Linked DNA regions of Homo sapiens. The protein of the gene in region 5 purifies or fractionates together with the protein of the main gene of each other region. This does not show direct contact. Each region holds a gene or a part of one and is shown on either strand. Other genes may lie near its edges.

Evidence for each region.
Region 1: the proteins of THSD4 (region 5) and USP54 purify together in Homo sapiens (affinity purification with mass spectrometry; 2 studies listed by BioGRID and IntAct, with this or other methods). This does not show direct contact.
Region 2: the proteins of THSD4 (region 5) and ETV3 purify together in Homo sapiens (affinity purification with mass spectrometry; one large-scale study listed by BioGRID and IntAct). This does not show direct contact.
Region 3: the proteins of THSD4 (region 5) and VSIG8 purify together in Homo sapiens (affinity purification with mass spectrometry; 2 studies listed by BioGRID and IntAct, with this or other methods). This does not show direct contact.
Region 4: the proteins of THSD4 (region 5) and RIPK1 purify together in Homo sapiens (affinity purification with mass spectrometry; 2 studies listed by BioGRID and IntAct, with this or other methods). This does not show direct contact.
Region 6: the proteins of THSD4 (region 5) and ARID5B purify together in Homo sapiens (affinity purification with mass spectrometry; one large-scale study listed by BioGRID and IntAct). This does not show direct contact.
Region 7: the proteins of THSD4 (region 5) and MLF1 purify together in Homo sapiens (affinity purification with mass spectrometry; 2 studies listed by BioGRID and IntAct, with this or other methods). This does not show direct contact.

What each region holds. Positions count from the first base shown.
Region 1 is NC_000010.11:73,584,517-73,588,573, reverse strand, and holds part of USP54 (ubiquitin carboxyl-terminal hydrolase 54), read left to right. Parts: intron 1-4,057.
Region 2 is NC_000001.11:157,131,339-157,135,395, forward strand, and holds part of ETV3 (ETS translocation variant 3), read right to left. Parts: intron 2,890-4,057; coding exon 2,774-2,889; coding exon of another isoform or gene 2,742-2,773; exon of another isoform or gene 1,807-2,741; intron 1-1,806. UniProt on the Homo sapiens protein: Transcriptional repressor that contribute to growth arrest during terminal macrophage differentiation by repressing target genes involved in Ras-dependent proliferation. Represses MMP1 promoter activity.
Region 3 is NC_000001.11:159,859,639-159,864,495, reverse strand, and holds the start of VSIG8 (V-set and immunoglobulin domain-containing protein 8 precursor), read left to right. Parts: upstream 1-1,838; 5' UTR 1,839-1,974; coding exon 1,975-2,023; exon of another isoform or gene 2,024-3,850; intron 3,851-4,857.
Region 4 is NC_000006.12:3,102,868-3,106,924, forward strand, and holds part of RIPK1 (receptor-interacting serine/threonine-protein kinase 1), read left to right. Parts: intron 1-1,357; coding exon 1,358-1,448; intron 1,449-2,554; exon of another isoform or gene 2,555-2,614; coding exon 2,615-3,184; exon of another isoform or gene 3,185-3,924; intron 3,925-4,057. UniProt on the Homo sapiens protein: Serine-threonine kinase which is a key regulator of TNF-mediated apoptosis, necroptosis and inflammatory pathways.
Region 5 is NC_000015.10:71,118,277-71,122,333, forward strand, and holds part of THSD4 (thrombospondin type-1 domain-containing protein 4 isoform 1 precursor), read left to right. Parts: intron 1-4,057. UniProt on the Homo sapiens protein: Promotes FBN1 matrix assembly.
Region 6 is NC_000010.11:61,995,382-61,999,438, forward strand, and holds part of ARID5B (AT-rich interactive domain-containing protein 5B), read left to right. Parts: intron 1-2,685; exon of another isoform or gene 2,686-2,770; intron 2,771-4,057. UniProt on the Homo sapiens protein: Transcription coactivator that binds to the 5'-AATA[CT]-3' core sequence and plays a key role in adipogenesis and liver development.
Region 7 is NC_000003.12:158,587,637-158,591,693, forward strand, and holds part of MLF1 (myeloid leukemia factor 1), read left to right. Parts: intron 1-1,215; coding exon of another isoform or gene 1,216-1,288; intron 1,289-4,057. UniProt on the Homo sapiens protein: Involved in lineage commitment of primary hemopoietic progenitors by restricting erythroid formation and enhancing myeloid formation.

The DNA.
Region 1 (4,057 bases), on a different chromosome or scaffold from region 5:
CTGGGTGAATTGTATTGAGAATGCACTGGTTTTAGAATACATTTTTCCCAGGCTGGGCGCGGTGGCTCACGCCTGTAATCGCAGCACTTTGGGAGGCTGAGGTGGGCGGATCGCTTGAGGTCAGGAGTTTGAGACCAGCCTGGCCAACATGGTGAAACCCCATCTTTACTAAAAATACAAAAATTAGCTGGGCGTGGTGGCACACACCTGTAATCCCAGCCACTATGGATGGAGGCTGAGACAGGAGAATTGCTTGAGTCTGCGAGGCGGAGGTTGCGGTGAGCCAAGATCACGCCACTGTACTCCAGCCTGGGTGACTGCGAGACTCCGTCTCAAAAAACAAAAACAAAAACAAAAAACAACAACAACAAAGGATACATTTAAGAAAAAAAAAAGGATACACTTTTCCCCATTTTTTATATGGCCTTGGGATTTATGCTATCAATTATAGTTTAATCTCCTGAAATTTTTATAGTAGTTATATGTGTGTGTGTGTTTGCCTGTAAGAGAAAGAGAGATGGGGGAGAGATAATGCATATAGAGGATGGTCAGTCATCATAATCACAGTTACTCTTTATGGAATTCCTGTTTTGTACCTGGCCCTAAGTATTCTGCGTACATTATTTTGTTGCATCCTTTCAGCAGATCACATTTATTATAGGTAGTAAATGGCCTGAATGTGATGGAGCTAGGATTGGAATGTAGATTCATCTTATTCTTCATCATCATTATCCTCACCATAATCATCATCAAAACATTTATTCCACACTTACCACATATTAGGCACTGGGCTAATTATACGTATCTACATTATTTTATTTAATTCTTATAACAATCCTATGAGATAGATGTTATTATTAGTCACATTTTTTCTGATGAAGTACCTAAGAGTTAGTTCAATAACTTGGTCAATATGCCACAGCTGTTAGATGGTGGAGCTGAGACCTGTTCTATTCCACTAACTCTGTGTCCCCAAGTTGTATAATTCACATAATGTTCTCTAGGAATGGGACCCTTTGGATCTCCACTAAAAGCATGTTACCTCCCGAGGTTCTGCAATATTGTTGGCCCTGCAGAGGGTGCACTTTTTGTTTTTTTTGAGATGGAGTCTCGCTCTGTTGCCCAGGCTGGAGTGCAGTGGCGCAGTCTCGGCTCACTGCAAGCTCCGCCTCCCAGGTTCACGCCATTCTCCTGCCTCATCCTCCCGAGTAGCTGGGACCACAGGTGCTCGCCACCACACCCGGCTAATTTTTTTGTGTTTTTTAGTAGAGACGGGGTTTCACCGTGTTAGCCAGGATGGTCTCGATCTCCTGACCTTGTGATCTACTTGCCTCAGCCTCCCAAAGTGCTGGGATTACAGGAGTGAGCCACTGCACCCGGCCTGCAGAGGGTATACTTTTAACCACTATGTTCTTTCTACTACCATGCTGCTTCCTTTAGAAGTCAGTAAATTATACAACTTTAGATCTTTATAAGGAAGGGCTAAGTAGCCTGCAGCTGTCATTTCTTAGTTCTTATAATTTGTCAATTATAACAAAGTGAAACGTGCCTTTTTGTTTTCTTTCCAACTACTTTTTAACAAATTTTAGACAAATTTGTTATACATGACAGTTATCTAAGTTCTTGTGCAGGAAAAATAAGACTTTTTGTCCTTTATCAGCATACAATTCTTCTGTTGTACATGATGTAATAGTTTGAAGCTGCCAAAGTCCAGCCCTCAGGAAATTGTTTGAGTTGAGTAACTATTCGCTGGAGAGTTTAAGATAACCAGCTCATAAATCAACAAATAGCTTGGCCCTTTTTATGGTTGTAGATGCTTATCTCTTTCTATTTTCAAGCTTGAATCAGAAGCAAATATTGTTTCCATTTATATAGTCACTATTAGAAAAAGTTGTCAGCAGTATCTCAAGCTAGATAAGGCCATTTTGTGAGTTCTTTTCTTTAAGGAGAGTCAGAATTTATCAGGATGTTAGAATTGGTTGTTCTAGGCTAGGTACCTTCAAACAAAAAGTTTTCTCTTTCAATGAAACTGTCAGTGATTCAATGCCTATTATATTCAACCTCTGTGTGGAATTAGAAAGATGCCCTTAAGACAAAATGTAGTCCACGTACCCAAATAACTGTAACATGAGGGAGAATGTGAGTATTGTAATCCAAACCCCACCATGCACTGAGAGCACAGAGGAGGATGAAATAAATTGGGAGATTGGAAAGGTGAGAGGGTGAGAGAATGATCTGGGAAGGCTTTTCCTTGTAGGATAGTTAAGATTTTCAGCAAGAATAAATGGAGAGGAAAGGCATTCCAGAGAGAGGCAATATTAGAGTCAAGACAATGAGAAAGTAAAGGACAGGGTATATTTGTTATAAAGAAAGGAGTCTAGTGTACTTGGAGTGGAGGATGAGTGAGAGGCACATAATGGATGATCAATGAAATGTTTGATCAGTGAGTGAATGAGTAGATGAAGCTGGAAATGGTGGTAAGGTCCGGTGATTCTCAAACTTTACGCTGGTGCCAGACATATTTAATTCTATCTTATAATTAGGAATTAATTTTTTTTTTCTTTGAGCTGGAGTCTTGCTCTGTCACCAGGCTAGAGTGCAGTGGTGCGATCTTGGCTCACTGCAACCTCTGCCTCCCGGGTTCAAGATTCTCCTGCCTCAGCCTCCTGGGACTACAGGCACGCGCCACCACGCCCAGCTAATTTTTGTATTTTTAGTAGAGACGGGGTTTCACCATGTTGGCCAGGATGATCTTGATCTCTTGACCTCGTGATCTGCCCACCTCAGCCTCCTAAAATGCTGGGATTACAGGTGTGAGCCACTGTGCCTGGCCAGGAATTAATTTTATTGGCAGAATATGTGAATATCAAAAATATGCAGCATAAAAATCACAATCATGAACATGATTCAGTGATATGATTTGGATGTTTGTTCCCTCAAATCTAATGCTGAAATGTGATCCCCAATGTTGGGGCCTAGTGGAAGGTATTAGATCATGGGGGTGGATCCCTCATGAATAGCTCAGTGATGAGTGAGTTCTCACTCAGTTAATTCACACAAGATCTGGTTGTTTAAGAGAGCCTGAGACCTCTCCCTTGTCTCTCTCGCCATGTGACACCTGGGCTTCCCTTTGCGGTCTGTCATGATCGTAAGCTCCCTGAGGCCTTGCCAGAAGCTGAGCAGATGCTGGTGCCATGCTTCCCATACACAGTGCAGAACCATTAGCTGATTAACTTCTTTTCTTTATAAATTACCCAGCCTTGGGTATTTCTTTATAGCAGTGCAAACATGGCTTAACACTGTCAGTTAGGAAAAAAGGTGTTAAAATAGTTCCAATTGACTGCTTTGATTTTTTTCCCTCTTAATTTTGCTACTATTTGTTCAAGTTTCTGTAGTGCTAGCAGTAGACTAAGTAGGTAAGAAAAAATTATGGTAGAGAAACTTATGAAAAATCCATCTATTAATTTTCTTTCCTGTGAATTAGAAAAATACCATTGTTCTTTTCCAGCCAAAAGAATATCTCCCTCTAGGAGCCATTAAATATTTTGAAAAGGAGTGACATGGTGTGGAATGTGTTTTAGGAGTCAGGTGGTAGTGACATGTAGGATTAGAGGACTGGCAATGAGTCAGTAATGTGGTGCAGTGGTCCAGATGTGGTGAGGATCTGAACCTTAGTAGCAGCAGCAGTGAAAATAGAATGAAAGGAAATAGAGATCCACACCAGGCCCTCTGTTTCTAAATAGGAAATAGTTACCAATTATTAACCAGCTTTCATATTGTTAGGATATTACGGGTCTCAATGGTCGGTTATCTCTGGTCTCAAGTCCTTTCACTCTATTTTTAGGGAAAATGTGTTTAAACCCCTATTTTAAGGAAATGATAGTTTATAGATTATTTATAAATTATAGTTAATTTAGAAAATAGAAAAAAGGAAAAAAATCCATAATTTCATCATCCTAACAAGACCGCTATCATTTTACATTTACTTACCCCGATGTTGCTGAGTTTTAAACTTCTCTGTTAATTCATTCTGCGCACATTTAGCTCTGAGAAACAG
Region 2 (4,057 bases), on a different chromosome or scaffold from region 5:
AGAATACCCCAACTGTCTCAACCCACCTTGTGGACATGATCTCAATGGCCTCCAGGATCTAAATCCACACAGCTCTATTTAGAGTACTTATCACATTTCACATTGTATTAAACCCGGCATATCTTATCTCTCCTGCTAAACTGTAAGTTCCGTGAGGTAAAGAACTCCCATTATCTGTTGAACAAATGAATCACAACCTAGAGGAGGAATGTATGATCTATTAAATAAGGGCTAGACTTCAACAGCTCGATCTCTCAGGAATTGTTTCCCTAGAAACTGTTCAATAGATAACTATTCAACCTACCCTGATCAGTCTTTAACTTTGCTGTCGTTTTCCTAATTTTATCATTTGTAAAATGTGGATATCAAGACATTCACTTCACTGGGCTGAAAAGTTGAATAACGTAATTCACAAAACTACTAAGCAAAAGTACCTCCATAAAGCAGATGTTCAATAAATGTTACATTCCTTTGTTATCATAAAGTTACCTTAAACAACATTTGGCCTCTCTGGTCAAAAGTTCTTTAAAAACTAATGACACCAGTTCTTTGCAGTTGTCTATACCTAGGATGTGAGCAACCAGGTAGTAGAGATAGATGTACTAAAAGAAATGTACACAGTTTTGCTTTCCTTGTGCTTTATTGAGACTGAGTCTCGCTGTCGCCCAGGCTGGAGTGTAGTGGCATGATCTCAGCTCACTGCGACCTCTGCCTCCCAGGTTCAAGTGATTCTCCTGCCTTGGCCTCCTGAGTAGCTAGGACTACAGGTGACTGCCACCTGTACTTTTAGTAGACATGGGGGTTTCCCCATGTTGGCCAGGCTGGTCTTGAACTCCTGACCTCAAGTGATCTGCCGGCCTTGGCCTCCCAAAGTGTTGGGATTATAGGCATGAGCCACCTGGCCCGGCCCCTTGTGGCTTTTTGATTAGGATCTTGAGCTTGGGTTAAAGATCAATGTTGGTTCAATCGCCTTCGGGCAGAACAGGTGTGCTGGGCCACTATTGTTAGGTTTCTAGATCAGATTCTTCACAGAGTGAGGATCCAGGTTTCCTTGCCCTGGAAAACCACATTACTTCCCAGGGCTTATGAATGCCCCATTCTAGGTTGTCCAAGTGGCTGAAGTTCTGGATTTTCAATAGATAAAAATGGGTCAAAGACAGAAGAACAAGACGAATGAAACATTTTTTTGGGAGTGGGGTGAAGGGGTATGAAAACCAACAAATTCTTTAAAATTGTTGGTATATACATCTAGATTCCCAATTCCTCTAGGCATACAAGGAAGGGGCAAGAGTGAGAAACAGAGGAAGCAAGATTTGAGTGGCGAGTACAGGTCTGATTTCCTAACGCCTCTCCCTCAGGCACAAGGAAAGAAAACAGGTTGTAATTAGAGAGATGCATTCCAATACCACTTTTTTTTTTTTTTTTAAATGCATGCCCCAGGGACAGGAGGGAGTGGTTACAGAAGTTGAGATGAAACTGTAATGATAGCAGAGTCAAGCTAAAACTGCCCTAACTTGTTGTGTAGTAATTACATATCTGCAATGGATCTCAACATTATGTTCTCTCAACCACACCCCCACTAATTTTTCAGGTTTCTTCCAGCTTTTCTGAGAAGTTGTATTACTGCATGATCAGCATTCTTTGCCTTAGCATACAAGGCCACAATGACAGAGTACTTACTGATGGACTGGTCAGAAAACAGTTAAATACAATCTACAGTAGTCCTTTCTTATCTGAGGTTTTGCTTTCCACTGTTTTAGTTACCCACAAAGGTCTGAAAATAGGTCTGTACAGTACACAAAGATATTTTGAGAAAGACCACATTAAGTTTATTACAGCATATTGTTATAATTTTTCTATTTTATTATTGTCATTAATCTCTTACTGTGCCTAATTTATAAATTAAACGTTATCACAGATACATATGAGTGGGGTTAAGGGAAGAAAAAACATCATATATATGAATGGAGTTTGGTACTATCTGTGGTTTGCGAATCTACTAGGGGTCTTAGAACATATACTGCTCAGATAAGGGGAACTACTGTATTTTCTTGGGCAGGAGTATGATTTGCATAAGGAAAAAAATCACAAACAAAAAACCACACAACAACAAAGTCTTTTGAGAGACTGCTTTCAACATCAAGAGAGAATGTGGGGAGCTGTGATGGAAAGCTATAACCAGGAAAGTCAAGAGGGGAAGCCCTACTGCACTTAACAGGAGAGAAGGTCAAGTAACCCCAGAATCTTTTTCTCTGAGGATTTGCTGTTGCAGATCAAAGACACTGCTTTTCACTGCAAACATGTGAACCTCCCCCTTCTCTGATCAAGGATGCTGTGGTTTTGATGATATTCACTTGATAAGGGAGAGCTTGGTAGTTTCACAGAAAATCGGAAGTGTTTGTAGAAACAGGTTCCCATCTATGAAAGAACCACTGGGCTGGGTGTTAAAACTGAGTCCTGAACGTAAAGATCATCACAAACCTATGAAACATCATTCCCAAACAAGATAGCGTAATAGTATCTAGGAGATTACAAACAATATGCAGAAAAGGGAACCAACCAAATAAACCAAAGAAATCTATCTTGATACTGAATAGCCTATAACTCTCCTTATAAGTGAGATGACTTGAGTAAGAACATTGAGGCAATCCAAAGGATCACATTATTTTAGTGTTTCTAAAATCTTCCTAAACATGCCATGTCTTAGATTTGGATTTTTAAAAATTCTTTTCAATTCAAAATTAATTCCCTACCAAAAGAGTTTGTATCTTACCACTTGACCGAATGTTGATGAATGGGTAGTTGGGCATCACCAGCTTGTTGAAGTTAAATTTATAGGTAAATCTTTTCCCTTTTGTTTTATGAAGGATCCTCTTGTTGTAATAGTATCTGTAAAAACAGGAATACATGTCCATTCGTCTTGTAGCTACTGACAGCTTTCAATACACTTAGGTAGCCACTGAGACCAACAATTCTTGCTCTGAGTATTACTTACAAAAATCACTACCAATCTTTCGCAGCCTGGCCCTCCAGGTAGATCTAGGAGACCTAACAGCTTAATTTTCTTACTCAATTTTCAACTCAGCTCGTTTTTGCCTAGAGGTTTACAAAGACAACTTCACTTTAAGATTCTGAACACTTATCCTAGCCCCAAACATTTTCTTCTCCATCTCTCTACAATTTCGATTCTACAGTCCATTTCCGTCCGGTTGCACTGCATGTCACTAACTGCTTAGTTTTTCTTTTTGGTCTTGCCCAGGTGGGGGCAGACAAATCACTAGGGAGACCTGATGTGGTTAGTCTGGAGGCCTAAGCTCAAAAGACAGACAAAGGAATGTACAACTGTTTTATGGTGGCAGGTCAAACAATGGCATGCCCTGATCTGGAAAACAGCAGCTAGTGTGGCCCGCCTCACCTTCAAAGACTCAAAGGGATGTGAAAGAATACAGCAAAGCCACTGTACAGAGTTTACATTTCAGGTCAGGAGAACTTCAATTATCTGGAACCTTTAGTCTTACATCTATGCAGTAGCAGAGGTCATAAACTGCCTTCTAGCCCCTTGAGGGCTAAAGGACTATGAAATGTAAGACCGACAAGGGGAAAAAAGAACCTGAGAAAACTTATAGTGATCAATCTTTAGACATATTGCAGCAGGCTATGGACAACCTGAGCTCACAGACACAGTTCCGGAATAGATAGGTCAGTATCACTGAATCTTCCTCCCGTGACTTGCTTCATCCTTTTCTAAGTTTCTTTCAGGGAAGCCCAAAGAAAGAAATTCTAACAGATTCTAATAGAGAAGTCTAAACTAATCCTTTGGATTATAAATGAACTCCAATCCATGTTTCACCATATACTCTCGCCCACTACAGAGCAGAATCAGCTGTCTGTCAGGATCCAGTGCCAGCCACATTGGAATCCCCTCCTACGTATAACCAAAGATATGCCTTTTCTCCTCCTGTGCCTATGCTACTCACATTCAACAGCTCTTCTACTCCCACTTTAAAGTGACACATTATTCACTAAGATAGTGTAGTCTTTTATTACCTGATACCCT
Region 3 (4,857 bases), on a different chromosome or scaffold from region 5:
TTCTAGCTGTATTTCTAACCCTAATCCCAACCTTAACTCTAATCCCAACCTCAAATCTGACCTCAACCTCATTCATAATTCAACTAACCCCAAACTTAACCCCAGCTCTAACATTAGCCCACATCCAGAACCCAATTAAATCTGAAGCCTGCACTGTAGTTTAGTGGAACCACAATGTTACTGCTTTCTCCTCAATCTCTCTGTTCGTGGTCTGACCTGTTTTCCCTCCCACTCACCCTGACCTTCCATGGTTCTTGTTCGTGAGTGGGTCTAGTAATCCACAGGATCACCAAGACCATTTTTTGGACCTCTCTGGACTGACACCCTGGGTACCTGGGTATCCCAGCTTAGGCACCAGCCGCATTGGCTGAATCCCCATGTTTCTCCAGGTCTCTGTTTCCCCATCTGTAAAATGGGGATAATGATCCCTGCTCTTCAAAGGGAGCAGGACAATCCCATAAACCTAAAAATAAATAAGGAAATAAAGATATTCATTGTGTACATCTGGTAGGTCTCAGAGCGCCCTGTTATTGTTGGGAGTTCAGGTGCAACGGCTTGGAATGCAGAGACGCGTGGACTCCTTGTGTTTCCTTAATGTTCTGACTTATTTTTCCCCAGAGGGGTGGGCCCTGGCAGCATCCCTGAGCCCCATAACTCTCCCTAACACTCTTCCTCCTCTGCCCTTTCTGTGCCCCATGGTAGGGATGGGGGCAGTCCCTGACTCCTTTGAGGGAGTTGAGCTATTGAATGGGGTCACTCATGTCCTGACTCCCACCATGGAGTCCAACAAGGCACATGCCCATTCTGTCCCCCTTAGACAAGCCAACAAGGGGTGGCCCTTCACTTGCTCCCCATGCCTACCAGGACCCTCCCCACCCCAGCACGAACTTACCCAGAACTGTGCTGGTTTAGTCAGCCCGATGACCAGTCCAGGTTATGAGGGTCCTTGGTCTCAAGGACCCAGTTAATACTGGGACTGCATTAACCCTCAAGACCTGGCTACTCTTTCTGGGCAGAGAAGCCAGGACACCAAGCGATCCCTCAAGAAGTTCACTCAGAGGGGCTTAGCCATCCTCACAGAGACACCCTGACACAGACATCCTGCCTCCCTCCCACAGACATTGCTGAGGGGTGCACACGCTTACACAGGCACCCCCTTCCCTGGTCCTCTTGGCGCTGTTCTCTCCAACACTCCCTCACTAGCCCATCAGTCACCTTACTCCTAGCACACACCCTGGACCCCCCATAGCACCCCTGCTCCCAGGGGTCCCCTACACTTGGGGATGGCCTTGAGTCGAGTATGGGTGTGGAGGACAGTTCCAGAGGGGACAGCCAGGAGGAGACTCTGTTCCTGCACACACCCCTTCTCTCCTCTTTCAGCTCAGGAGGCCTGAGTCCCTTTGAAAGGCCTGAAGCCTGGGGGAAGGTGGGCTGGACACTCCTGGGGAACCCTATGCCCTGGGATCAGGATTAACTCTTCAGGTCCTGGCCACTCTTTCTCCCAAGCCTGGCTTCTCCTTCCTCTTCCCCACTTCCCCCAGGGAAGGAGGCAGCAAATGAGTGGTGAGGGGAGCCCTTGGAAGCTGTAAATGAGGTGACTGTTGTCACCCTGAGGATGTGGCCAGGAGGAAGTGAAGTTTAACAGGTGCCTAATTACAAGTCCCGCTGGCTGTCCTGTGCCACTCTTAGGACAGGGAAGAGCTTGGGTGAGGGCTGGGTAATGCCCAGGTAGGCCACCCTGTCACCCTGCTAATTAGGGTTCCTGGGACTCCTCCCCAAGGCGGGGACCAGGCCCCCTCCCTCCCATAGAAATAACTCCAGCTGCTCCCCAGCTGGGCACTCATTGCACCTTCCTGCCACCCCAGGCAGTGTCTGGGCCCTCAGCTCCCCCTCCCTCCACCTACCCCCTCACACCCACCACTACGACCCCACGGGATACCCAGCCCAGACGGAGGAAACACCGAGCCTAGAGACATGAGAGTTGGAGGAGCATTCCACCTTCTACTCGTGTGCCTGAGCCCAGGTACGGGGCTGGGCAGGGGGCAGGGTAGCCAGCATGAGGCTAGGTGGGAAGGAAAGGGGCAGCAAGGGCTCACAGTGGAGCCTGGGGCTGCCTGAGTTGCCTGGCAGGGTGCTGCCCACCCTTGCCCTGCTGCAGCCGGGTGTGGGTATTACCAGGGGACCTTTCCCCAGGAGACCCTGTGCCTGATGTTCAGGGTGTGTGTCTGTAGTGCAGAGGTCTTTGAGTGGATCTTTATATGTCCCCTGTCGGGCTCACACATGTGTGCAGGTGCCCTGCAAGCTCATGCCGTGACTAGGAGGAGAGGGATTGATTGCTCTGCAGGAGCTGGAGGTGGGGTAGGAGAGGGGTAAGCACGGGCATTGGGTGAGGGCTCAGGAGGAGCTTGGGAAGGATCAATTTTCATCAGACTGTGTGCTATTCCCAACGCTACTCCTTCTCTCCCAAGGCCAGGGCCAAGGGGCAGGGAAGTCACTTGCCTTGAAAGGGCAAGAGACTAAGTCTGGTGTAAGTCTGAGTGGTTTCTTCCATCATGGCCAGTGACAGCTCAGGCCTGAGACCTCAGCCTTGGGCCCCCTGTGCTATGACAGGGCAGTGCCCCACTCTAGGATGAGGCCTGAGGGTGGTGGGGATGGCAACTCCAGAGACTTCTCACCCCACCAGGACAGGTCCACAGGGCAGGGCTCAAGTTTGGACATTGTGGCTTCCTGCCCAGGTTGGGGCAAGTTCCACCAAGGGGCATTCTATGCCAACATCACTGGAAAGGGCTCCGAGTCCCTCTTGCAGTCTGGATTTGGGATGAAGGGGCATGAAGGAGGAATTTGGGAAGGCGGGGTGACATTTTCAGCCTTTGTGTGAGCGTGAATGTGTATGTGAGTGTGTGGGTGCGTGCACCTGCATGGGAATGATGACATTTCCGGCAGGATAGCTGCAGCCCTTCTCTGTCTGATGAGAGCAGGGCTGGCAGAGTCCACTCGGGAGGCTCCAGCTGTGCTGTGGGGACCCGGACTTCCCCCTGTGTGGTGTGTCAATGGGTGTGTGAGGACAACTCAGCACTGGCTGCATTAACGCATCAATACCCTCAGCTGGAGCCGCCTTTTCTCCCCTCCCTTACCTCCAGAGGGAAGATCAGGAGTTCTGGAAGCACCTTGAAGATTCAGAAAGAATTTGCAAGCAGAGAGTAGGCACCACTATTGAGATGACACCCCGTAAAGCATGGCCAGTTTCTGGTGCTTTTGGGGGGCAAAGAATCACCACTGTCCTCTTCCTTGGAGAGCCCATGTGATTCCTCCATTCCTGTCTCTCCTCAAGTCTCCCATCCAGCTCTCTCTTCCACTTTGCCTTTCTTCCCTCTCTCCAGCCTCTCCTCTCACATTCCCTGTAGTACTTCCTTAGTGCTACAGCAAGAGGAATCAAGGTGAGACATTAGGAGCAACTTCCCAAGGAGAGGGAGGGGTGCGGAAAGGCTGGAACCCTTGGGAGGAGGTTGAGAAGACTTCTAAGGAGATAGAAAAGCTGGGTGAGGCTCCCTGGTCTGGGACAATTGAAGAATCTCTCAGCCTGGTGCAGGGTGGAGGTGCTTTTCTTGCAGCCTGTCGCTCCTTCCCAAGCCCCTCTCCCTGAATGCTTACCATCCTGCCTGGCAGGCTCCTATGGCATGGAGAGAGTCCTTCCTGTGTGGGTGCTTCCAGCGGTGCTTCTCCAGGGTGGAGCCTCTGCTCTCAGCCGAGTTCTGGCTCATCCCTGGCTTGCCTTGAGCAGCCTCAGGATCTGGCAGATGGCAGCAGGATCCTTATCTCAGGAATGAGCTGTTGTTCTCTTGGCCTGGAGCTGGAAGAGGCATCACTAGGTCCCGTTAGAGCCCCAGCAGTCAGCCTGCCTGCTCTGGGTCACCTTGGAGTCTAGCTGGGTTATGACAGAGCTGATGGCCCAGCCAGTGTTCCTAGGGGGGATGTTCAGGGATCCCTGAGCTGTTGAGGGTGTTGAAAGGGCCCTTGCTGGCCTCTCTGGAGCCAGGCTAAGCCTTCCTGGCAGGGCTTCCATAGATATGTCTGGTCTTGAATGAACACATACAGGGACTATATGAACACACGGTGGGTGTGTCTTTTGAATTAATATGTTCTGTGTTTGTGTGCAGATTGTGTCTGTGTCTGAATGAATCTATATAGTGTCTGTGTTTGTAGGAAGGTGGGGCCATATAGGTATGTATCTGCATTTTGAAGCCTTGTAAGAGTGGGCCACGTGCCGATTTGTTTGCCTGTGATGGTGTAATTGTGTGTGTGCATGTGTGAGATCTCTATGTGTAAACATGGTCCTGAGCCACATGATAGAACAGAATGATTGCTGAGACCTGGGGCTGTGACTCCAGAAGACATGTTGACTCAAAAAAGAACGCAGACGGAGAGTGTGTGAGGCCTGGTGAGGGGCCTGCAGAGGCAGGGTTGCTGGAGACTGGGAGGTGGAGGGCAGAGTGTCCAGGGTGGGGCCCTGGCTACACCCCCCGGTCTTATCCCTCTCTAGGTCCAACCGGTTGGGGATAGGCCTGCCTGGGGCTTCAGGGTAGGGAGGGACAAGAGCTCAGTCCTGAGCTCCTGGGTCCTGGGATCCTGGCTCCTCACCCAGGATTGCCTGCCACTGACTCAGTGGCAGGAGGGGCCTCACTGGAAGCCAGCTTGTGGGGGCAGCTGCATGCGAGCCACACAATCACATAAGAGGAAGCACACACAGTACGCAATGCTGTGTAGTCAAGAAAGACTCACAATGTCCTACAGATACCTGTGGCCATAGTCCCAGGCACACACCATCACTCACTATCACACACGAACACAGCCAGGCTC
Region 4 (4,057 bases), on a different chromosome or scaffold from region 5:
TTACAGGCGTGAGCTCCCATGCCCGGCCATGTTTAACTTTTAAGTACTGTTAAAATTGTTTTACATGGTAGCTACACCATTTTATATTCCCCACCAGCAATGCACAAGGATTCTAATTTCTCCACCATCTTACCAACACTTTTTATTTACCATTTTTATATTATAGTCACTCTAAGGAGTGTGAAAGTGTACCTCATGGTGGTTTTGACTTGCATTTCCCTATGACTCATGATGTTGAGCATCTTCATGGCTTATTGGCCATTTGTATATCTTCTATGGAGAAACTGCTATTCAAGTTCTTTGCCCATTTTTGAATTGGGTTGTTTGTTTTTTGTTGTTGAGTTGTAGGATTTTTTTTTTTTATGTTCTGGATTTCATCCGTTTTCAGATATATATTGTTTGCAACTTTTTCCCCATTATTTTATTTTATTTATTTATTTTTTTTTTGGAGACAGAATCTTGCTCTGTCGCCACCCAGACTGGAGTGCAGTGGCAGAATGTTGGTTCACTGCAACCTCTGCCTCCCAGGTTCAAGAGATAACTCCTGCCTCAGCCTCCCGAGTAGCTAGGACTACAGGCACACACCATCATGCCTGGTTAGTTTTTGTATTTTTAGTAGAGACAAGGTTTCACCATGTTGGCCTGGCAGGTCTCGAACTCCTGACCTCATGGGATCCACCTGCCTTGGCCTCCCAAAGTATTTTTTCCTTATTCTGTAGGTTATCTTTTTACTCTTTTCATAGTATCCTTTGATGCACAGAAGCTTTTAATTCTGATGTATTATTTTTACTCTTTACTTTTGTTTGTGCTTTTGTGTCATAACCAAGAAATCGCTGCCAAGTCCAATGTCATGAAGCTTTTTCCCTGTGTTTTCTTCTAAGAATTTTTGTGGCACTAGCCCTTAAATTAAGTCTTTGATCCATTGTGAGTTAATTTTTATATGGTATGAAATAAGGGTCCAACTTCATTATTTCATATGTGTATATTCAGTTTTCCCCCATCGAATGCTCTTGGCAACCTTGTCAAAAATCAATTGGCCATTTATAGGAGGGTTTATTCCTAGGCTTTCCATTCTGCCCCACTGGCATATGTGCCTGTCTTTATGCCAGTCCTACGCTGTTTTGAATACTGTAGCTTTGTAGTAAGTTTTGAAATCAGGAAGTGTGAGTCCTACAACCTTGTTCTTTTTAAAGATCATTTTGGCTATTTGGGAAAAACATTAATTTTAAAAAATTACTACTTGTAAGATCTGTGTGAAATTTCTACCTTCTGAAAATATGAATTCTTCTCGTTAAAATTTTCTGGGACTCTATTTCCTGCTGTTCACTAAAGTGTGTATTTATGCTCTTAATTATAGAAAGAGTATTCAAACGAAAATGCAGTTGTGAAGAGAATGCAGTCTCTTCAACTTGATTGTGTGGCAGTACCTTCAAGCCGGTCAAATTCAGGTAAATTACACTATGGTCAAAATCTATTCATTTATTTGTTTGGTTACTCATTCACTCCACTCTCTAAAAGACTATTCAGGACCATATGGGAAACAGAAGAAACTATAAAAGTGAACACCTGCCTTACAGGAATTTATAATAATATTCGAGAGTCAAGTTACATGTATTTGAAATATGAAGTAACAGTGTGCTCACCAGTCATAGAGTGTTCTGAACAAAAGGCCTAATATATCTGATGGGGAGAAGTGACAGTTCAGAAGAAGGAAGGGGACATATGTGAGAGCAAAGTCCCTGAGGAGCTCGGAGTGACTTACAGCCAGGGTACAAGCAGAGAGGCTGGTCTCAGGTCAAGTAGGGATACTTTTTTCACTGTAACAAAAGGGATGGCAGAGTATAGGATACTGAAGCCGCTTAGCTACCTGATCTGTGGCTAATTACTTAACCTCTTCTAAACTTCACTCATCAAATCATAATTGCTCCTCCTCTCATAGGGCTCTTCAAGAATGAAAGAATTCATGGGACATGCTTAGGACAGAGCTGCTGCAGATCTTTTTTTTTTGGAGACAGAGTCTGTCACCCCGGCTGGAGTGCAGTAGTGTGATCTTGGCTCACTACAACCTCCGCCTTTCAGGTTCAAGCGATTCTTCTGCCTCAGCCTCCCAAGCAGCAGGGATTACAGGCATGCACCACCATGCCCGGCTAATTTTTGTATTTTCAGTAGAGATGGGGTTTCGCCATGTTGGCCAGGCTGGTCTCGAACTCCTGACCTCAGGTGATCCGTCCGCCTCAGCCTCCCAACGTGCTAGGATTACAGGCGTGAGCCACCGCACCCAGCCACAGATCTTATTTTCCACCTGAATTGCTCCAAGGAGACAACCACCTTCTCTGCTCCAAACCAAGTCCCTTTTTTCCTTGATCATCCCTGCAACAGCCGCTTTTCTCTTGCTTGCTATAATTTTCCTAGTACTCTCTTACTGCCAGCGAGGAGCTCCTATTATTATTTGTAAAGCTTGTGGGAAGAGGACCATCTCCTAAATGCTTTGGACTGGTCTCGTACTTGTTTTCTGTGTGTTACTTTGAGATACAGATTCATGACGGCGCTCAGATTTTATTTTACTTTTTAATGTTTCATGACACCCATTCTAATGTTGATCATTTCTTCTCAGCCACAGAACAGCCTGGTTCACTGCACAGTTCCCAGGGACTTGGGATGGGTCCTGTGGAGGAGTCCTGGTTTGCTCCTTCCCTGGAGCACCCACAAGAAGAGAATGAGCCCAGCCTGCAGAGTAAACTCCAAGACGAAGCCAACTACCATCTTTATGGCAGCCGCATGGACAGGCAGACGAAACAGCAGCCCAGACAGAATGTGGCTTACAACAGAGAGGAGGAAAGGAGACGCAGGGTCTCCCATGACCCTTTTGCACAGCAAAGACCTTACGAGAATTTTCAGAATACAGAGGGAAAAGGCACTGCTTATTCCAGTGCAGCCAGTCATGGTAATGCAGTGCACCAGCCCTCAGGGCTCACCAGCCAACCTCAAGTACTGTATCAGAACAATGGATTATATAGCTCACATGGCTTTGGAACAAGACCACTGGATCCAGGAACAGCAGGTCCCAGAGTTTGGTACAGGCCAATTCCAAGTCATATGCCTAGTCTGCATAATATCCCAGTGCCTGAGACCAACTATCTAGGAAATACACCCACCATGCCATTCAGCTCCTTGCCACCAACAGGTAAATGGGTCTTCGATAGTCACAAGCTTGTCTTTTTTTATTTTTCAGAAAATACAGCAACCAAGCAGCTCTATTATAGATTGTGGGTTATAATGGGGACAGAGGGCATCATCAGCTGCCAGATGCAAATTGCCCCTGTGGAATGGACCCTGCCAAACCACTTGGTCTGGGAGTATTTCATCTGGGGCTAGGATTCATCACAGATGCCCGCAAGCATCGGGTTACAGGTCCTTGTGACTGGCAGGCATCTTTGACTCTAACCTGGAGTGCATAGTAGTCCTATTTCACCCAATCTCTGATAAATGGGAAGTTATCTGCTTATTTGCTTTTACCTTGCTTGCTACTTTTTGAAGGTAAGAAATCAGTCTTGGATATTTTTGTTTCTGACCTTATATAGCTCAAAGACTACCATTAGTGATGAAAAATTTTCTTTTAACTCCCATATCTCTATCAGGTGAAGTAAAAGGTAGGTGATAGTAGTTACTGGCAGTCTAGAATGGAAGTGAGTTAATGTAATATCCAGCATTTTTATCAAATAATACTCACCAACATCACCTTAACTACCTGAACAGCATCTACCAATGATACCCACAGGTGTCCTGGAGATCTTGAAATCATCTCAGGTAGAGGAAGCTTTCAGAACCACAGAGCTTAGTTACATTTTCTTTCAAAAGGCCAAATTCTCCAAAAACGTCCTATGCAAACATCCTCGATTTCTTCCATAGGTTTTATGATAAGATCTGTAGAATGCAAAATATTGGATTAGACATTAAGCAGTATCCAAGTCATGTATAATCCTATGAGCAGAATGTCCTTTTGTTTCCTTCATGTTGGGGATAAAATTTTTTATTAGTATTGCCATATCATTTTATT
Region 5 (4,057 bases):
TTGAAGGCCATCCCTCCACTCACCCAGTCTCTATCATGGTCTTATCTGCCCTCCCCACACCTCCCATCCCCAGCTCAGAAATTCAGATTTCCCCTCTTCTGATCTAAATTTTGCCAGGCAGTGTATCCCACCCAGCCTTTCTTGCACACACTCCTGTGTCTCTTCCCTGCATTCTTTGTGCCTGCTCTATGTTCAGCCTGGATGAGCCTCGCCTCCCCAGCCACTCTGAGGTTTCCCCCGAGCAGCCTCCTTGGGCCTCTCCAGGTCATGGAACACACTGTCCTCATGTTAGTGGCCCCAGCACACTTGAAAGCACATGACTATTTGCCTGGGTTTGACCCCTCATCTCACTTTTCTCTTCTCTCTCCTCTTCTTTCTGGTTTTCCCATCTTTTTCTTTGCGTGTGTATGCAGAATCGTGATGTTTACTTATGCGCAGATATAAAGGTTTCATGTGTATTTGTTGAATATCCTCGCTGTGAAAATGGATTAAAAATGTTATGCTGGAAGCCAACACATGATGCAGGCTGACGCAGGTGAGGAGAAGATTCAGGGGAAGCTCTGGCTTTAGGCTGCTTTGCTGCCTCTGGCCCCCTCTTGGGATCCCCCAATTTTACTCCTCCTCCGCAGGACCGCTGTGCTGAGGCTGGGACACCCCTTCATCATCTAGGCCTGTTTTGCTCTCTTTTCCTCCTCCTGTCAAAACTTACTTCTGTGCCCACAGCCTCGCTGGCTTGTTAGCCTCACTGGGGCCATGCTTAGTGAGCACTGGTGTGTGCAATGCTTGGGGCTTTCAGTGGTTTCTCTTTTAATCCTCCCAGCCACCTAGAAGGGAGACATCAGCATCTGCCTTGTACAGGAAGAAAGTTGAGGCTTACTTGCCTGAGGTCAGCAGCTCAGGTTTGGAGCTGAAATCTTAAACCCAGCTCTCTAAATCTGGTGTTCTTTCCACTATATCATTATTTCCTGAAACAGTTGTCTTAGGAACATCTGAATCAAAATTCAGATCTGGTGAAAGAAAACACAGGCTCCAGGGTGGAAGCAGGGCTCGAGAACTGGCGTTTTTAAGATTACCTCAGGCGATTCTTCCGCACACCCAGGTTTGGGGACCACTGCCCTGGGCTTCCTTTACAATGTGGTTCTAGCGACAGGTGGTGGGTTAATACGCCACTTTATCCCAGGCAGCATGTTCCTTTTTGACAGAGGCCCTGACTTTGACTCTAAGGAGTGAGCAATGGAGAGTTGTGGCCAAGGCCAGGAAGAGGGTCCTCTCTTTTGGCCCGAGGGGTCTTTAGTTCAGTCCTGAAGGCCCAGCCCCCTCAGCTTACTCGAAGGCATGTAAACCCACCTGCCACCAGACTCACTGTGAATTTCTTTTGGGACCTGAGCGAGTGCTCAGGGAGAAAGACCAGGGTGGGTTTGTTCAAGAGCCCCAAGTTGCTTGGTTTGGGACCCCCCGAATAGGGCTGGACAGGCAAAGCCAGCCCCTTCCTCCCTGCAGGCACGGTGAGTTGAACCTCCTTTCCCAGAATGGGATCTGGCCGTTGACAGATCTCTTTCATTCAACTGGCCTTGCTCCACTTCCTACCCACCCAGCCTCAGTTTCCCCATGTGTAACAAGAGGATGGCCAAAGTCTGGAGGGCTGGTGGGGGACCAGTGCATGGGTATGCAGAGCTTAAGGCAAAGCCCTAAGGCACATAGCAGGCGCTCAGTGTTAGTTCTCGCCCCATTTCTTTACTCTGTGCCTGATCAGTGCTTGAGACAATTGGAGCTCAATGTATTGCTGTAACAAAAATGTATATGTAATCTCAGGCCCCCTCAAATCCAGGGTTTTGTGTCTGAAGGGCACAGGGCTGAATGTTACAACTGTGTATTCAAACCCAGCAAATGAACACTCCCAGCTGCGCGGTGATAGTAATAATGAATTACCCATCCAACATCCCTGCTCGCCCCACTCCCCTTCCCCAGCTTCCCTTTAGATTGCCCAAAGAAGAACCCATGGAACAAGAGGCAGCAGTTTTGTGTATTGATGCGTTGTCTTGGGAAAGTGGTCTCTTTCTGTTGACCTCTTTTCCTGTCTACCCCGTCACCCAGCTGAGTGTACTGCCTATGTTGTCTTCTCCTACCAGCCTTTCCGAAGCTGATCACTGAGGTGTCATCCCAGGCATTGGCGCCCATTAGCCCTGCTTCTCTAGGGCGTGGTCCGAGGGCAGTGAGCCAGGTTCACAGTGCCGCTGTGTCTTGTCCCAGGAGGGTGGCACTGGGCACCCCACAACCGGGTGGGCAGCATGTGGCCTGCTCCACCCTCCTGGCCCTTGGCCAGCTGCCTAAGGCCTGGCCAGCAGTGAGGACAAAAGCACGGAGTGATTAATGGGCACCCCATCTAATCTCCTGCCAGGGGAAATGAAGGGCCAGCCATGGGCTGGGAGCTCGTCATGACCTGCTCCAGGTGGGCTTGGAATGCACCCAGCTCAGGATGGGGATTAAGGCTTGAAAGACAAGAGGAAATGAGATGTTAACCCTTTAGGCCTTGGCCCTCTGAGCCCCAGTAGGGAAATCACAGGGGAATTATCTGCAGGCATCTGATGAAAGGGGGCATCAGCTTTGATTTATGGTGGGGATGCAGCCATGTGACTACAGGGGTGGGAGGATGACGAGCTTTGACTTAACCATTTTTCTTGGAGGCACAGTCAGGAGAGAGAAGAAGATTAATTTCCCATGAAAAAGGATAAATGGACTGCTGGGAGGCTGCCCTACCTGCTTCCTTCTTGGAAACCCTCCGACCATATCAGCAAGCTACAAATTTGTAGTTGCCAGACATACTTTTCCCCCTGAAATGTCGCGTCTCTGATCACTTGTGATGTGAAGGAAGAGGGAGCCCACCTCCTTTCCCCGGCCAGGCAGCAGCGTGGTGGTGCTGAGGAGGAGAGCACTCTGGAGCCAGGTCCTGAGTTTGAGCCTTGGCTCTACCAAGTTTTGGGCCTTGAACAGGTTCCTTGGCCTCTTGGGCTGTAGTTTTTCCACCTGGAAAATGCTCAAAACTATCTCAGGCGTGTAGAAAAGTGCCACTTGAATGTTAGCTATCACTTTTTTTTTTTTTTCCCCACTTTGGCTGAGTCCTGAGCCTGCATCTCCTTTGGGAAGCACAGAAGCAACTTCTCTTCCAGGGCGCCAAGGCTTGCTTTGGGTAAATTGACAACTGACTCTTTGATTGATCTCCCTTGTTTGACCCCTGACCCTCACATGCCTTGGATTCTGTCTGGCTTGCTCCTCCCTTTGCTCCAGCTCCATGGTTTCCAGCTGCCCCTTTGATGACATTACCCTGCCCCTCGTCTCCTGCCCTCATGCTAGGTTGTCAGACTACTTGTGGGCTGGGCTGTGACATCTGTTGGGTCCTCCAGTGGTACTGGCCAATTCTGCACTGGCTCTGCTCCTTGCTAGCTTTGTTGTGACCTGATAGTCCCAAGCCAAGTGGCTGAGGGTAGAGAATGCAGCTGTCTTGAGAGGAAAATCAGGAGCCGTGGAGGCCGTCTGGCCTGGATGCAAATCCCCACTCTGCCCTGTTTTCTGGTTTCTCTGCCCTCTCATTGCCTTGTTCTTGGTGGGGGATAATAATAGTTATACTTACCTAATGATTGACAGGAGGATCAAATCCAACCGTGCACATGAGGCCGCTTGGGAATCATGTAGGGGAGTTTATTGCTGGTTGTAAGGTGAGCCCTGAGGGTAGAGCTGTGTCTTCAAGTTTTGAAGTCTCATTACAGGGCGTGTAGTGACAGTATAGCCTTTAGTTCCATTTAGTTTCTTTTCCAGAGCAGACAAGTACCCAGGACCTGCTTGACTTTAGCGATATTTTAGTTGAGGCCCAGGATTTCATTCTGCTTGAAGTTCAGAGGATCTTCTGGTCAGCTAAGCGGGGAGGAGCTGCCATTACAGAGCTCCGTGTCAGGTACTGGGATTTACCTGCGTTCTTTTATTTAATCCTCTCAACAACCTGTGTGAACTAGACACTATTATTTCTACTCTACAGCTAGAAAACTGAGGCTCAGAGAGGCTA
Region 6 (4,057 bases), on a different chromosome or scaffold from region 5:
GCCGAGGAATTTAAATAATTCTTGAAAGGACTATTTGGCTTTATTTGTTTCCTGGTGTACTAGGGCAAAATAAAATATGCCGACCATTGAACACTTTAGTATTTTTATAGCTGTATCAGAAGGAAGTTAATTTAATGCAAAGGCTTAGGAGGCAGTTTTAGGATCACAGAATTTTAGATCTGGAAATCTCTCCCCAAACTCAAAATTTTATACTCTGTTATACACACCTTTCATATAAAGTTGACCATATTTTGTCTTGAGGAAAAAAAAAAATGTTTTCACCAATAAAATAAACTGCAAAGAAGAGACCTGGACCCAGACTGTTTTACTCAGTGAAACTTCAACCTAGCTTCAACCTTGGCTTTTCCAGGTCCCACTTTGACTCTGTATCTTTCCCTTTTACTTTTCACTTAGAATGCTTTGTAAACTTTCCTAGGAGTCCTCAAGGTCTCGTGGGCTTTCTCCAGTTTGGTAAATATTAAAGGCAACTCCTCTGGGGATGTCTAATTGCAAGGTTGGAAATCTGCCTCTGTCCAAACAATGCCAAAATTCTGGTCCAAACGGGAGGTTCTGTTCATAAGCAACAAAGTTATCATTTGTGTTTTGCCCCACCAAGCATTGCCACAATAGACCAAGCCCCAGCTGTGCCTGTAGCCTCTTAGTGTGTGGAAGGAGGTTGATGAAAGGTAGGGGTTCTAGGCTGGCAACACATAGAGTTGGGACTATTTCCTATCACATGCATAGAAAGTAGAAAGTTAATGTACATGAATGATGTATCAATAATGTTAAATCATTACAGTGGAAATTGCAGTGTTCCAAAATAATAAGTAACAAGCTAACCTAAGGAGAGTAGAATTCTGGCTTCCAACTGGCTGAATTCTACAGTCTTACATCAAACAGAAGTCTTATATTTGACTTGATCAAAGGCCACCATCCTCGTCCCTAATAGTGTAAACCAGTTAAATCTCTGTTATTATTATTACTATTATTATTTGAGACATTTTATCCTAATGAAAAGTCCACCAAACTGGGAGTTCAAAGATTGGGTTATAAGTCCCAGCTACTCAGGAGGCAGAGGTAGGAGGATTGCTTGGGCCCAGGAGTTTTGGGTCCAGCCTGAAGAACAGAGAGAGGCCCATCTCTTAAAGAAAAAAAAGGATTGGGTGGTTATAGTCTCAAATTGGGGAATATTAACAACTAGTAATGCCACTAATAAGGTTGTTGTGAGGAACAAAAGAGACGTGAAAACACTATATAAAAAACCTTTGTGAATTTTAGTGTTTTATTATCAGTACTGGAAATAGCATTAATACTTGCTTTCTAAATGGGGAAACAGTCTCTCTGTTTCTCGTATTTTTAGTTAAGAGGGCTTTTAAAATTTGCTGTCTTCTGTGATATCTGTAACAATCCTGCAAAAGTGGCAGAGAGAAGAGATTTTGCTTCTTTGTTCTATGTACTGGGGGGTTAGGAGAGAAATAAGAATTTTTTAAAAGTCTGACAACTGAAAAAAAAAAATATATATATATATATATTTCAAAATCCAAACTAACAACCTTACTTTAAGTCTTCGCAAAAAAGTAAACTCAGAGTTACTGGTTTCAAAGTTTAGTGTGCATGAGCTATTTGGGATGCTTGTTGAAAAGGTAAATTCCTAGACCCCAGCCTTAGAGATGCTGAGTCACTGGTTCTCGATGGCACAGTATCTGATTCTGATGCAGACAGTCCCAGGACCACTATTAGCAACACTGTCTCCAGGATGCACGGACAGTTGTAGGAGTTGAGAGTAGGGGGAACTTGCTGTTTTTCTTCCAACAGAAAGAGAAGGATTCATGACTTGGCTAGTGTTTTGGGTACTGCGTGATCTAAATGTTTTGAACTAGGATGAGGTGGAGAGAAAAAAAAAAGAGGTCATTTCTAGGCACAGAAGATTGCCAGGGAGCCGACTCCATCCAGAACAGAGAATTGGGAAGCAGTTAGAGATGGCATCATCATGAAAAATGGTTAGAGAAAAAAAAAAGGAGAATGAAGGGATATGAAGGAAGTGAAGTGGTCCCAAGAGTCCAGGTGACATCTTCCATGAAACTTACTCTGAAGCAACTGTTCATTTATACTCCTTCAACCTGAGAGCACACACATTTTTCTCCATTTTATTTCAAGAATACTTGGAGAAATTGATGCACCTTTACCCCTATCATAGAAAGCTAATTGCACAACCAAGATAGAATTTTAGAATCAACAGGTATTTACAGGCACAGTATTTACTATGTATGGGAGATGGTGTTAAGTGCTATGAGGGGTAGTCCTGGCACTTAATGGTTATATGCCTCTCTCTCATTAACAATGTCTTAGACAAATCGAGTATAATACAAATCGAGTGTAATAATACAATTGACACATTGGGGGCTGCTTCTTGAAATAGCACTTAAAAACTCTGGAGAAACGACCGCATTTGAATATTTTCACTAAAACTTTTTGTGCTTTAGCTGTATAAAAAGCACGGTTTTGAACCCAAAGTTTGAACTTAGCGTCTTGGTCTGCTGTAAAAATCTCAGATGGGCATGCCTTGGGACATATATCAGCATCTCAAAACTAGTTTGCATTGGGGGACTTGCCTTCAAGGTAAACATATTTCCTTTTAATTAAGTGTGCCAGCTGACAAAGCAGCTATACACAGACCAGGCAGGAGTTGAAGACGTGTACACTGTTAAAAGATGTCATCTTGTAAGCAGCTAAACATCTCCATCCGTGGAAAAGCCGCCAGCCTGAGGAACTAAGTGAACATAATTAGAAATACATCTGGGTATTGGCCTCCTATCTGAAAAGGTCACATGCACACCTTCCATTGGTACTGGTTATGTTCCATCATTATGTTCCGTCCTTGCTCATTCGTCTCCCACTGGTTACCAGATGGCCATGATAATGTCGGTATCCTTAACAACTGTCTAGTGCAATTCCCTGCAGCATGGTAAGGGCTTGAAATATTGAGTGTTTTCCCTTTGGAGAAGCAAGTGACATGTCTGGGAATTGCTTACAACCGCTCTGATGGGGTGGTTGCGGAGTGATGGCAAACTGGGTCATGGAGCCTAAATTCAGCTTGATGTTGTACAGGTGGAGGCCACCAAAGCACGGTGTTTGCCATTTCTCAAGCTTAAGATGAAGGAAGGCTTCATCCATGCAGAATCTGGTGTTTACAAATGAGCACAAAATAAAGTGAGGTGTAAATAAGCATTAAGATCATTATAAGAGGAAGCTTCGCTAAATTTGCTGAAATGTTCCCCTGAGTTAAGGTGGTTTTGATAGAACTCTCTCACAAGAATGCTTAGGGAGTCCTCCCAGCATGGTTCTCTGAGGTGTGCCAAGTTACCAGATGGATTTGAGGAACGTTAAAAGAGAGGAGTATGGGTATGGGGAGGGTGGAGAAGGTGGGTGTATCAATCAAGTTGGGCTAGATCATGCTGCAATAACAAATGACCCCCAAATCACCACTGCTTTAGAACAACAAAGGTTTATTTTCTGCTTATGTTATATGTCTCTTTTGGATCAACCAGGGGTTCTGCTTCATGTTAATTTTACTCCAAGACCCAGACTGGCAGAGTTGCCACTATCCTGGGACATTATAGATGGTCACAGCAAAGACAAAGAGAGATTGTGGTCAGTGGTACACTGGGTCTTAAAGCAACCATCCACTTCTGTCATATTTCATTGGCCAAGGAAAGTCACAAGGCCACTGGCCTCCAAGAGAGTGAGGCACACAGGCTTTCCACAGGCCCAAAAGGAGAACAGGAAATAGTTGCTGAACAGCACTCATGACCCCAGAGCAGATGGCGATGCATTTTAGACCCATGGACATCTTTGGGGCCAGATGACCTTTTCAGAGGCTCCAAGCACTGAAAAGATTATACAGATGCTTGTTGACTTTCTATGGGGTTACAGCCCAACAAACCAATTGTAAGCTGAAAATATCAAGTCGAAAAGGCATTGAATACACCTAACCTACTGAACACATAGCTTTCCTAGCCTACCTTAAACGGGCTTGTAACATTTGCCATAGCCTACA
Region 7 (4,057 bases), on a different chromosome or scaffold from region 5:
CTAATTTGTTTCTAATAAACAGAATACAAAAGAAGAGATAAGATGTCACTCCCAAAATTACATTTTTAAAAGAGCATGGCTTGGCCTGGTGCGGTGGCCCACGCCCGTAATCCCAGCACTTTGGGAGGCCGAGGCGGGCAGATCACGAGGTCAGGAAATCGAGACCATCCTGGCTAACACAGTGAAACCCCATCTCTACTAAAAATAGAAAAAAATTAGCCGGGCCTGGCGGCGTGCGCCTGTAGTCCCAGCTGCTGGGGAGGCTGAGGCAGGAGAATGGCATGAACCTGGGAGGTAGAGCTTGCAGTGAGCTGAGATCGTGCCACTGCACTCCAGTCTGGGTGACAGAGTAAGACTCCGTCTCAAAAATAAATAAATTAATTAAATTAAAGAGCATGGCTTCTGTCTTAGGTGTTCTCTCACACATGATGGCTTACTTCGGGGAAAGAGCTACCATGATGTAAAGCAGCACTGTGGAGAGGTCCACCTGAATGAGCTTAGAAGCAGATTTTTGAGACTAGCCAATAGCTGTGTGAAGGAACTTGGAAGTGGATTCTCCACCAGTCAAGACTTGAGATGACTAAAGCCTCAACTGATAACTTCATTGCAGCCTACAGAGAGGCCCTGAGTCAGAACTACCCACCTAAACTGCTCCTGATTCCTAATCAACAGAAATTGTGACATAACAAATGTTGTTTTAAGCTGCTAAGTTACAACAGCAATAGATAACTAATACATGTTATGTCAGAATAACACATTGATTGAGACCATCCTGGCTAACACGGTGAAACCCCGTCTCTACTAAGTACAAAAAATTAGCTGGGTGTGGTGGCTGGTGCCTGTAGTCCCAGCTACTCGGGGGGCTGAGGCAGGAGAATGGCGTGAACCCAGGAGGCGGAGCTTGCAGTGAGCCGAGATCGCGCCACTGCACTCCAGCCTGGGCAAGAGAGCGAGACTCCGTCTCAAAAAAAAAAAAAAAAAAAAAAAAGCAGAAAAAAACTGCCCTCATTCTAAGTCATCAGTTTTGTTGCTTTCATCTAAAGACAGGAAAATGAACTACAAATCTACAAAAAGTTTATACGTGTGTTTCTGCATCATAAAAAACAGATATTTATAGATATTCGCAAAATTTTGAGACCACATTCAGGATGGCCTCAATTAAGACATAAGCTTCTATGGCATAAACAAACCTCATTTGAGGATGTTGTTTCTCAGACATACAGGTGGTCTTACTCTGCAGCAGCTGAAACTGAAGCACAAGAAGCCCTTGGAACTATCATCAGGACATGTAAGTCCCATGTACTAAAATACTTGGGCCAGAGAAAACCAAGTATAGTTTAAATAGGAGTTTCCCCTCCCCTAAAATCCAAAGTCACTAAGGAGGAACTTCAAGACTGCAGGCATTGGTTGCAGTGGAGATTTTTCTCTGTGTAGCAAGCACCAAGGTGAGCAGAGCCTTTAATTAAGAATAGTTAGTAATTTTGCCAAGAAATGGTAGGGGGACCATCTGATATATAGGATGGTTCAAATTCCATAAACATTATTTATTTATTTATTTATTTTGAATTTTTGTATTTTTTTTTATTTTATTTTGAGACGGAGTCTCACCCTATTGCCTAGGCTGGAGTGCAATGGCATGATCTTGGCTCATCACAACCTCCACTTCCCGGGTTTAAGTGATTCTCCTGCCTCAGCCTCCAGAGTAGCTGGGATTACAGGCACCTACCACCACACCCAGCTAATTTTTGTACTTTTAGTAGAAACGGGGTTTCACCATGTTGGCCAGGCTCTTCTCAAGCTCTTGACTTCGTGATCCACCCACCTCGGCCTCCCAAAGTGCTGGGATTACAGGCATGAGCCACCGCGCCCAGCCCTCCATAAACATTTATAATGTATACTGTGTGTCAAGCACAGAGGTTGGTAATATGAATGAATAAAGATACAGTTCCTACTCTAGAAGAACTTATACTCTAAAAGAGGAGTGAGACTTTTGTATATTTTAAAATTAAAATTAAAAAACTTGTATTAGTTTCCTATTGCTTCTATAACAAATTACCACATATTTAGAGACTTAAAACAACAAATCATCTTATGGTGGAGATCAGAAGTCCAAAATGGGTTTCCCTGGGCTAAAATCAAGGTGTTGGCAGGGCTACATTCCTTCTGGAGTTTATGGGGGTGAATCTGTTTCCTTGTCTTTTCTAGCGTCTAGATACTGCTGTGTTCCTTGGCTTCTGGCCTCTTCCTCCATTTTTAAAGCCAGCAGTGTAGCATCTTCTGATTATGACACTACTATCTCCTTCTCATAAGGACCCTTGTGATTACATTGGGCCCACTGGGATAATCCAGGATAATCTTCCCATCTCAAAATCCTTATACACATTAGCAAAATGTGGTAAAAACTGAAGACCTAACAAAGATTCATGGTTGTGTGGCTGAATATATTCATGTTAAGAGAATGAAAAAGGCAAGTCCAAGACTGGGAAAAAATTTAAAACCTGTATCTGATAAAAGTCTGTGTCCAGAATATATAAAGAACTCTTATAACCTGATTTTTAAAAATGGGGGAAGTATTTGAAAAGACGGTTCTATCAAAGAACATACATGAATGACAAATAATACAAAATAAAACTACAATGAGATGTTATGACCCTACCACTCAAATGGCTACAGTTAAACATTGACTATCCTATATTTCACCAAGAATGCAGTGCAACTGGAACTCTCAGTTACAGTTTTCATAAAATTTACATACTCTTCTAATACAAGCCATCAGTCCTTGCTCTGAGGTGTTTACTTAAGTCAAATTATGTATACACAAAGACTAGTACATAAATATTCATAGTAGCTTTATTCATAATAGCCAAAAACTAAAAACAGTTTTGTGATTATGATACTGATATATGTATGAACTTAGCAATAAAACTGAATGAACTGAAATAGAGAACAACATGGATGAATCAAAGAAGCATTATGCTAAGGGAAAGAAGCTAGACACAAAAGATGACATACTATGTGATTCCATTATATGAAATCTGGAGAAGACCAAACTATAATGACAGAAAGCCTATTCATGGTAACTAGGGCTAGGAGCAGGTAATTATCTGCAAAGAGACGAGGAAGCTTTTTGGAATGATAGAAATGTTCTACATCTTAATTATGGTGGAGGTTATGACTGCACTTTTTAAAATTCATCAAACTGTACAACAAAATTGGTAAATTTCGTTGAATGTAAATTATGCCTAAACAAGGCTGAATGAAAACATCTGTCTATACATACAAGCACAAATCCAGTTAAGCAGTTTGCTAATCTTAAACTCACACTTGGAACAATTATGCTTTTTTTAACCTCCAAGGTAATGTGTGAATAAATCTGAGCTCTTTTGGAATAGGTTTATGTATACAAATACTATGAAATTCAGAGGAAAAGCTCTTTCTACTTGGACTTATGAGCAGAAGACAGAATTTTTGAGCTTCCTCCTTTGAGCTTCCTCCTTTGAGCTGGAGTTGCAAGGAAAATTTCTTTTTTTTTTTTTTTTTTGAGACAGAGTCTGGCTCTGTCACCCCGTCTGGAGTGCAATGGTGCAATCTTGGCTCACTGCAACTTCTGCCTCCCGGGTTCAAGCAATTCTCCTGCCTCAGCCTCCGGAGTAGCTGGGATTATAGGCGTACGTCACCACACCCGGCTAATTTTTGTATTTTTAGTAGAGATGGGGTTTTACCATGTTGGCCAGGCTGGTCTTGAACTCCCGACCTCAAGCAATCCACCTGACTCAGCCTCCCAAAGTGCGGGGATTACAGGCATGAGGCACCACGCCTGGCCAAGAAAAAATTTTAAAAACTTTCTAGCTTCTTTATGATGACATCAGAGGATTGGAATTAGAAGGGGGAAGGGTGACCTAAGAAGAATAACTGAAGTGGAGAATCTGAAAGGAGGCCAGACTATTGGAGAGGGAGTTCCACTGGGCTGCAGGAAAGCATAAGATTGCCTTGGTAAAGTGAGCTCCAATCATGGTGTACCTTAAGTTCTAGAACGAGGAATAAGGAATTGATTAGT